Regions from separate parts of the Homo sapiens genome. Here region 2 is linked to region 1. A link means that fine-mapping ties the variant in region 1 to the expression of a gene that starts in the linked region. Tissue or cell type: whole blood. Region 1 holds a variant in brackets; the other region holds the start of a gene. All regions are shown on one strand. Distances are between the middles of the regions.

Region 1 (4,321 bases):
GTGTGCTGGGCACAGCCAGATAAAAGAGCACTTTTATGCTTCACACTTACTCTGAGGTGTGGTGGAAGTATTATTTTCTCCATTTTTCAGATGAGGAAAATGAGTTTCTGAGAGATGCATACTTGGCCTAAGGCCACACTCTAGAAATTTAGAAACTGATGAGATGTTGTAGGCATTTTATACCTAAAATTTTGAGTTATTCTCAAAAACTCTGGAAATTAGAACACAGGCAGGTGAGAAGGCAATGCTGGTCGGTGCTTTGGGGGTTCAGGAGGTACAGTGGCTCCCTGCTATCTCTGCAAGAGCCCCCTGAGCTGAATCAGGTGGCCTCATTGTTAGCTCAGTGCTTCATACGGCTTGGGGAAAGGGTCCATCCTGTGGGTTGTCCCCAGGCCTGGCAGTCCAGATGTGTTGCTTTAGAAAGATGTTTGAAAGTTCCAGCAATGCTTACCTCAGAATGAAAGGCAGAGAACCAGGATTCTTGTTTTTGCAACGTCTTCCATATGGCCTTGGCTCTCTCACAGGTAGGAAGGTGATTATGTTCACCTCCAAGGTCAGTCCTTCGCTGAGCCTCCAGATTCTGCCCATTTCTTCCCCTTCATCACTGATGTTGCTGTGCATTGAATCTCTCATAATCAGGATGATGAGACATAGCTTGGCAAACTAGTTCATTTTCTTAAGGCAGTTAAAATTTAATTATCCTGCTTGCAGAGAGGCCATAGATAGTTGAGTTGCATTTGCTGCCTATGCCTCATATAAATTTCGTTTTTTCCCCTAAAATTTAGTTTTTTTTAAAAAAGTCCATTCCATGTGTCAGGGCACATGGTCTGGAGTTGTCCTGGCACAAGACAGCCCCAGGTGTCTACCTGCAGACCTGCCAGCTGTCCCAGCCCATGGCTCACACACAGGCACACTCCCCTGCCACTTGTTTAAGGTTAAGGCATTGGTTTCTTTATTACTGCATTATGGGGAGCATTTTCCCGAAGAGTTAGTATGCTTGGGCCCACACTGTCACCGCAGAGAGGAATTTGTATATGAACAACATCATCTCCGTGTTTTTATTTAGCTGCTCCTTAATGAAAACCTTGGCTCCATTTTCCTGCTCACAAGGAACCTCTGATAGCATTTGCCTCTATGTTTGCAGTATTCTAGGTCTACCCTTCGCTCACAGCTGTTAAGCTGTTCTTAACTCAGGGTTAGGAATGTCAAGGCTATTCCCAAATCTATCATTTTTACTTGTCATGTGTCTCTAGCTACTTTCTGCTTTATTTTTTCTGTCGGGTTGATGATATCTTTTTCAAAACTTCAGTGGATGTTTTCCAAATTGCATAAACAGGCTATTTCTACTTGGCTGCTTTTCTGAAGCCTTCGCCTATCTGCACCCCCTTTTCCTTCTGATTGTATAATGTATAATCTCCATGCAGATACAGAAAGACATAGGTCTGCAGGGTGGATTGTGGTAGGTCTGGTTTCATTGGCAGAGAGCCATGCTTAACAGACACGCTCAAAATATTGCTATTCAAGCCGTAAATATTTTATTGATCACTTGGCCAACGCTGTCATATTTCCCAGGTGCTTTCCAGTGTCTACTGCTTGGGTGCAAGCCTGTCACTTGACACTTCAAATGTGGCTTATTACTGCCCCTTCCACTTTTCTCAATTGTTCTTTCTTGTAGCATTTAGTACTGTCTCTAAGAGTTGTGGAATATTGACCCAGATAGTGCTTTTAGACCCAAAGTAATATTAGAAATTTTAAGGCTGTTGGACTTCAGATCATAATGGTGTAGAGATAGAAAATCGTATAATTTACCACCCAAACTGGGATACCTTTGAGAGTGTAAAGGGGCACTATTAATAATTGCATCAGAATGACAGACATTAACTGGGGCTCTCCCCACAGATGAGGGCCACCCGAGTTAGACACTAAATTTGGTCAATCGTACTTTCTAGAATATCTTCTCTCAATTGCCAATTTCAGGGTTTAGACCATCTAAGTAAGCTAATAAGGCACGATTAAGAGTTTGAAGCCCTTTAAGTTTAGTATGGTTTTCCCCCAAACATGGATTATATTTTAAATTTGTTTCTCAGTGTCTGAGAAACCCAAATCAACCTCAGACAAGTTCACTTCAAGCATTTGAAACCTCTTGGTAGCTTTGGGTAGCTGTGATAAGCCATTTATTTTTGCTTTGCAAGGTTCTGTGGAGAAACTGTAAACTCTGCATGTAGTGTGCACGCGCG[C/T]GTGTGTGTGTGTGTGTGTGTGACAGAGAGATAAAATGAACTTTGAAGTAGAGGGACGTGTCTTCATTACACAAGTGAAGACAATTGCAATTTTTGTTTTGTTTTGTTTAAATGTTTATCGAAGATAAGAAATTTTACTTTGGGCTGAAAAGGGGCAAAAAAAATGTTGTGTTTTCTTTTTGTACCATTAAAGTGGGCAAAAACAAAAGCAAAAATAAAAAACAAGCCCTCAATTCTTTAGAAGGGGAGGAAAGGAATGGTGGATTCAATTGCAAAATTCTTTTTGAATTAAAAAAAGACAAGAATAAGAATGAGGACAGGAAGAGTAAGAAAGTATGAAAGAATGAATGAAAGGAAATTGTAAAACTAAAGATGAACGAATTTAAGTGATATTACATAGATTCTTGGAAAAGCTTTCATCTGGGCCAAGCATTACACCTGGTTAGGAATTCCAGGCTCAGGTGGCCCCATGGGCAGTTTTGGGTCTGTTGTTTCTACTCCTTGCCTGTGGTCATTTCTGAATACTTTAAATCCCTCATGGGTAGATGGGTGGTCAGGACAACTCAGATGAAGTCTTCCCTGGGTTCCAGGTGCTTCCATGGCAAAAAATGCAGGAGGACCAGTGTTTACATTTATGAAAATATGTGTGGATCAATGACTGTTGGTATTTTCTGTGTCTGTGAAGCTCTCTCTTGCAACAGTGTTAAGTTAGTTTCATAGGTCAGCTTCATGGGAAACAGGGGCACTTCTGAAGCATTTGAAGGAGGTGTAAGAACAGGGAAAGGATTATTTTCCATATAGAGAGCAGCGTGGGAAGAATGCTGCAAGTTTGGAATGAAAGAGATGCTTAGATAAACATGAAGGAAAAAAAACTTACTTGTAGAAAGGGATGAAGGAAGGAAGTAGGAGGCCAGGACCCAAAGAGCGTTTTGAACCTCAGGATGAATTTTGCCTTTGAAAGTAGGAATATTTAAGGGTAGAGCAGAGTTATTGAGTAAGCTTATGAGATAGGTAACTTTTTTTTTTTGGTTACTTTTCCTCCTACTCATACTGTTGTTAAAACCTCTGTATCAGTTTATCAGAATAAGCGTTAAACCTCAGAGAAGATGACAAAATCAATCAGGTACATATTTTCAAGGTACAAATGGAAAATAACCTCGGTCAGGCACAGGAATCTGCTAAGCCTGGTGAGTGTTTGTAGATACGGGTTTTTTGAAGTATCTAGGGTCTCCCACTATGTGCCAGGTGTTATACCTGTTCTCAATTAATTACTTTTTTTGTGTGCAATTAGAGTTGTGTGATGCGTTTAGAGTTGTGTGATGCATTAGTATCATTCATGTTCAGAATAAAAATGTGTTGTTGAGTCTGATTTTCTTTTTCTTTTTTGTAGAAATGAGGTCTCGCTATGTTGCCCAGGCTGGTCTTAAACTCTTGGCTTCAAACAATCTTTCCACCTTGGCCTCCTAAAATGTTGGGATTACGGGCATGAGCCACTGCCCCTGCCCAAGTCTGATTTTGAAATACCCTTTAAGAAATTTATCACAGGAAATTTTCAGTGAAAGAGTTTCCATGTAACCGACTTTTGTACTTCTAGTACCTACACATTTCTCCTATTTGATATCTTTTGCCAAAAATTTAAGTTAATTCCATACCTTATGCATCAGTTGTCTCACATCATTAAGACACGAAATAAATGCACAGAATGCAATGAAGAATCACAGATGATAAGGAAGACCTTACCGTATTTGTTCCTTACCAGTAGGAATAAATATTGTGTATGAAATAAACAGCATCCACTCTGTGAGGAGAATGTGGGCTGGAGAGTCGGGAGTGTTGGTCTCCAGCCACAGCTCTGCATCAGTATCTGTCTGTGTGACCTTAGGCAAGTCATTGCATTTTTATGCACCTCATTTTCTTCATCAGTCAAATAAATTCATTGGAATGACGACCTGTCAGATTTCTCCTAACAGTGACATCTTATGACTTTAGGTAACATTTAAAACAGCCAAGGCTTGGAGAGAGTGTAGACTGCCATTCAAGAGGTAGGCAACATGGGGATTTGCATCCTAATCCCCAAATTCTGT
Region 2 (4,135 bases), 72 kb before region 1:
TTTTTTCTCATTCTGTGGACTTCCCTTTCACTGTCTTAATAGTGCCCCTTGATGTACAACATTTTAAAACTTTGATAAAGTCCAACTTATCTATTTTTTCTTTTGTTGCCCAAGTTTTTTTTCCTGGGATAAGCTGTCATATCCCAGGAAATCATTGCTAAATCCAATGTCATGAAGTTTTCTTCTTTGATTTTTTCTAAGAATTTTATAATTTTCATTCTTATGTTCAGATCTTTGATAGATTTTTGTTAATTTTTGAGTATGGTGTAAGGTAGGAGTCCAATGTCATGCTCTTATATGTGGATACCCATCTAATGTTATATTTTTGAAAATACTGTTTAAAACAAAACTTACTGTTTTCCTGGGCATTCTCTAGGCAATTTATGACAGTGGTGGCTTATTTTGCACTATTAAGATTTCTAGTTTATGTTCTTCCACACCGTAAAAGGCCGTGTCAGAGGAGGGAGCTAAGGTCCTGAAGAGTTGCTTTCTATATAAACTCAGCATAGACAACTCCAGACTTCAGAACCCCTTGACAGCCACACTGTACACCCTTATAGAGCAAGAATCCAAGTCTTCTCAACTTTGTTTTTTTCAATTATCCTGCAAACATAGTGAATACAGTTGTAATTAGTTATGATTGGTATAATTGACCGTGGGCTCTTTAAATGGGGCAGTGTGCTGAAATTGACTGGGTTACAGGGGCAGGCTGAAGCTTCCCTAGCTCTCTTCATAGACTTCTTTTGTAGCATGTATTACATTTTTGGGGGGAGATCGTTGATTTATGTGTCTGTCTCCTCACTACAATGCAAACTTGCTATCTTTCTAGTGCCTAGAACAGTGCCTGGCACAGGCAATTTATTAAACTAAAGTGAACCAATAGCATTACCTCTTCCTTACTTCCAAGTTAATGTGCAAAGGCAGAAGATGAGCAGTAAAATCTTGCTTTACTTACAATGTCATCTTAACTGCATTGCCAGCTTTATACAATGAAGGCTGATGATGATATGGCTCCAAATGACAGTTATTAGATTTTCAAGGATTTTCTAAGTTTGTATCTTTATTAAAAAGAGAAAGAAGCCAACTATGACAAATCTTAACTCCCACCTCCTACTCAAAGAAGATGGAATCTTTTAGGATAAAAGTCTTAGATTAAGCAGCCAAATACTGACTTCTCAAAAAAAATTGTAATAACTCCATTCATAGAAATGAGATTATGCTGTAACATTCTTACCATAGTCCTGAATATGTGAATAAAAGATGCTGTGTATTTTCACTTAGGACAGATGTAAGATTTTCATATTGTTTACATTTTCCCTAAATGAGAAATGTATGAACACTTCTGCCCTTTTATTCCTGCACCACGGACCATGAGTCAGGGCTGCTAAAAGTATCCTTATTTTAGAGATTGCCTAAAACCAGACTTATATGAAAAGGGGATTTTTAGCTTTACTTTTCAGAAATCCCAAGTCCATATCCAGTCAGCTCTCTTCCACAAAATTATTTTCTTTTCTTTAGAAAATATCACATTTCATATCAAGTTATTAGAGAGAAACGGGAAGCCTGAGCAGGTGACTGGGTGGTGGACGTCCTGTGTTTCTAAAGCAATCCCTTTCCCTCACCTGAGACCTTGCCTAGGTTAATGGGGGCTCCATTGAGAAAGTCAAGGAACATGAAGCATGAATATTTACATATTCAGCAGAGAGTAAATGCATCAGCAAATGATGAGGTGAGATACAGTGTTATCCCACTGAACTAGTTCCCTTTTGCTCATCTCCCTCCCTGTTACTCTCCAAGGCTGAGTTATATTCAGCTGAAGCACAATTTGAAGAATACGAAATAATGTGTGATTTGGTGCCACCACTGTCAATCAACAGTGCTTTCCACCTAGACTGCTGTGCCTGTGCCAGTGGCTGCTGTCCTGGTGCCAGGGGCAAGAGGAAGACTGCCTTTTTTCCAGCTTTCCCTGGCTTGACCACACCCCCCAATTTAAGGAGGCAGCTCTATTAGAAACATTATGGTCTTTGCATCCTCTTAAGCTACGGAGCAGAGGATTCCCGCAGGTAGTTGGAAAGAGACCACAGACTTTGAGGGAAGCTCACTCAGGATCTGCTCTCCGGCAAAGTAGTAAGTGAGGTGTGTGTCAGTTTCTGCCTAAAACTTTTCAGTCCATTTTCCTTTTCCTGCTTTAAAAAAATTTCTGTGGAATTAAAGAGTAAGTCGGTAGGGAGATTCAGGATACAAGTGAGTTTTCTCTTTCTCTTTTCACGTCTTTCTATATTCCCATTTAATTGTTTAACAATTTTCAAAAATACTTCCTAACCTCGTCAGAATAGTCTGAAAGCAAGACTATGTTTTTAAAAATGTTCCCTGCTTCACAAAAGTAAAACCATGCACGTTTTAGATACCCGTAGATTACTTGTCAGAAACCCTGATTTTTTTTTTTTTTTTTTGCAAATTGGAGCACTTCCAAAGAAATAAAGCTGTAGTTAAATATATAAATTTCTTTTTATTCTCTTTCACTCCTAGTAAATCTATTGTTTTACTTTTTTCTCCTGCTAGTAGTTTAATGAATTGCTTTTAATAGAGAGGAAATTGCTACAGGTTTGAATCTTGCTAGCCAAACTAGCCTGTTTGGTGTTTTTCTCTGTCTTGGGACTGACCTGCAGTTGTCCAAAGATCTACAAGTTCCTAAGTCTGTTGTTGAGACATGGTGTGGGTGTGGGCCGCGGTTGTCTCAGAGTTAGGGAGGTATTTCTTGTCCCCACGGTAGAGCTGGACTCAGTGGCAGGAGATGTCGATGGCAATTCCTCTGCATCCGGTGATTTTATCTGGCCGTGACACTTTGTATGTGACTCCTCACCCACCGTTAAAGGTCTCTGTTACCAACTTTTAAAGTAGTATTTTCTTCAGGCAAACTTAAAAGGGTGCTGGGTCACTGAAATCAATGCATTCTATTGCAGGATTTCTTTATCACCTTTTGGGTAAGTTTTTGTTTTTAATCTCAAGTCCATTTTCCTTCTTACTTTAGACCACTGCCATGCAACTGAGAAAAAAGTATTTGTTAAACAGCAGGAAATACCAATTCTAAAATGATAACTCCATCAGCTCCATTTGATTTGTAAAATTACTGATACTATAACTCTTTCATCAGTTGTGGTTTTGGGTTTGGTGGCCTATTTTTATCCAAAGAGAAAACGCTTTTTCTTCAGGGGCCGTGGGCTGTGCACAAGGGCTGCAGGGTGGCCACTGCTGCTGTTGAGAGTCTTGCTCACCTGTTGTTCCTGAATGGAGGGAAGGGAGAGCTAATGGGTTAATGTCTGCAAAGTGCTTTGAAGATGAAAAGGTCTTTTCATGTGTTCAGTAGTGCAGTTATTAATATTAATATTTGAAGAAGCATGCTGCTTCTAATTGTAAATCAACTACTTCCATCCTTGCCAACTCAATAGTGAAATAACAAACAGTTCAGGCATCCATGCAGCCTCTTCCGTCCTGGTTCCGCTGCTGAGGATGTGGGAAGCCAAGCCGAGAGCCTAATTATGGAGGGGGCATCTTTGCCCGGCAGGCTCCTTACACGGAGGTGCTAGTTGCTGGCTGTGAAAGGATGTCCTGAGGCAGAGCCTGGGGGAAGCTGGTAGAGGGGTGGGATCCTTTGGCATCTGGCAGTCTGTGGCCAGAGCACCGACTTGGGCCAGTGGCCGGTCCCGGACGATAATGGAGTTCAAAGGCAAGTGGGGTCAGAACTTGAACCAGCGCTGGGTCGGAGAAGGGAAAGTGGCTGTGCACTTGGATTATGTCAGTGATTAGCTTTGTAACAGAGAACAGGGATTGAACGTGTCTGTGCCTTCTTCCCTTCATCTCTAAAAGGTGAGCAATCATTTGCGCCCCGCCTGGTTTACAAATATGAGAGAATAGAAGTAAACAGCATAGGGCTATGAAAAATCAGAGTGCCAGTGAGGTCAAGGACTGTCTGAAGTAATACTTCAACAAACTGGGTGTGTGGGTGCAGGTCCTCTCACCTAGGGGAGGGTGAGGCAGAAGGCAAAACACTGCAAACAAATAATCAACAGATTTCTCTCTTTGATTGCACTGGTGAATTTCTTACTGATAACTGAGGTTCTGATGTACCTTGTGA

What was found. PIP is the estimated chance that this variant, and not a neighbour inherited with it, causes the effect.
Region 2: ETS1 starts here. The variant in region 1 is fine-mapped to the expression of ETS1 in whole blood (TOPMed, PIP 0.93).

What each region holds. Positions count from the first base shown.
Region 1 is chr11:128,513,191-128,517,511 of GRCh38, reverse strand. All of the region lies in intron 3 of ETS1 (ETS proto-oncogene 1, transcription factor), which reads left to right. Among named protein-coding and RNA genes, the nearest start is that of MIR6090, 7.0 kb to the left of the region's middle. The variant C/T (reference allele first, on the strand shown) is at 2,238.
Region 2 is chr11:128,585,489-128,589,623 of GRCh38, reverse strand. ETS1 (ETS proto-oncogene 1, transcription factor) reads left to right here and starts at 2,066. Exons shown (of 10, transcript NM_001143820.2): 1 at 2,066-2,136. LOC105369565 (a long non-coding RNA gene) reads right to left here. Exons shown (of 5, transcript XR_948163.3): 4 at 2,664-3,284; 5 at 1-603. RefSeq lists a silencer at 1,907-2,113.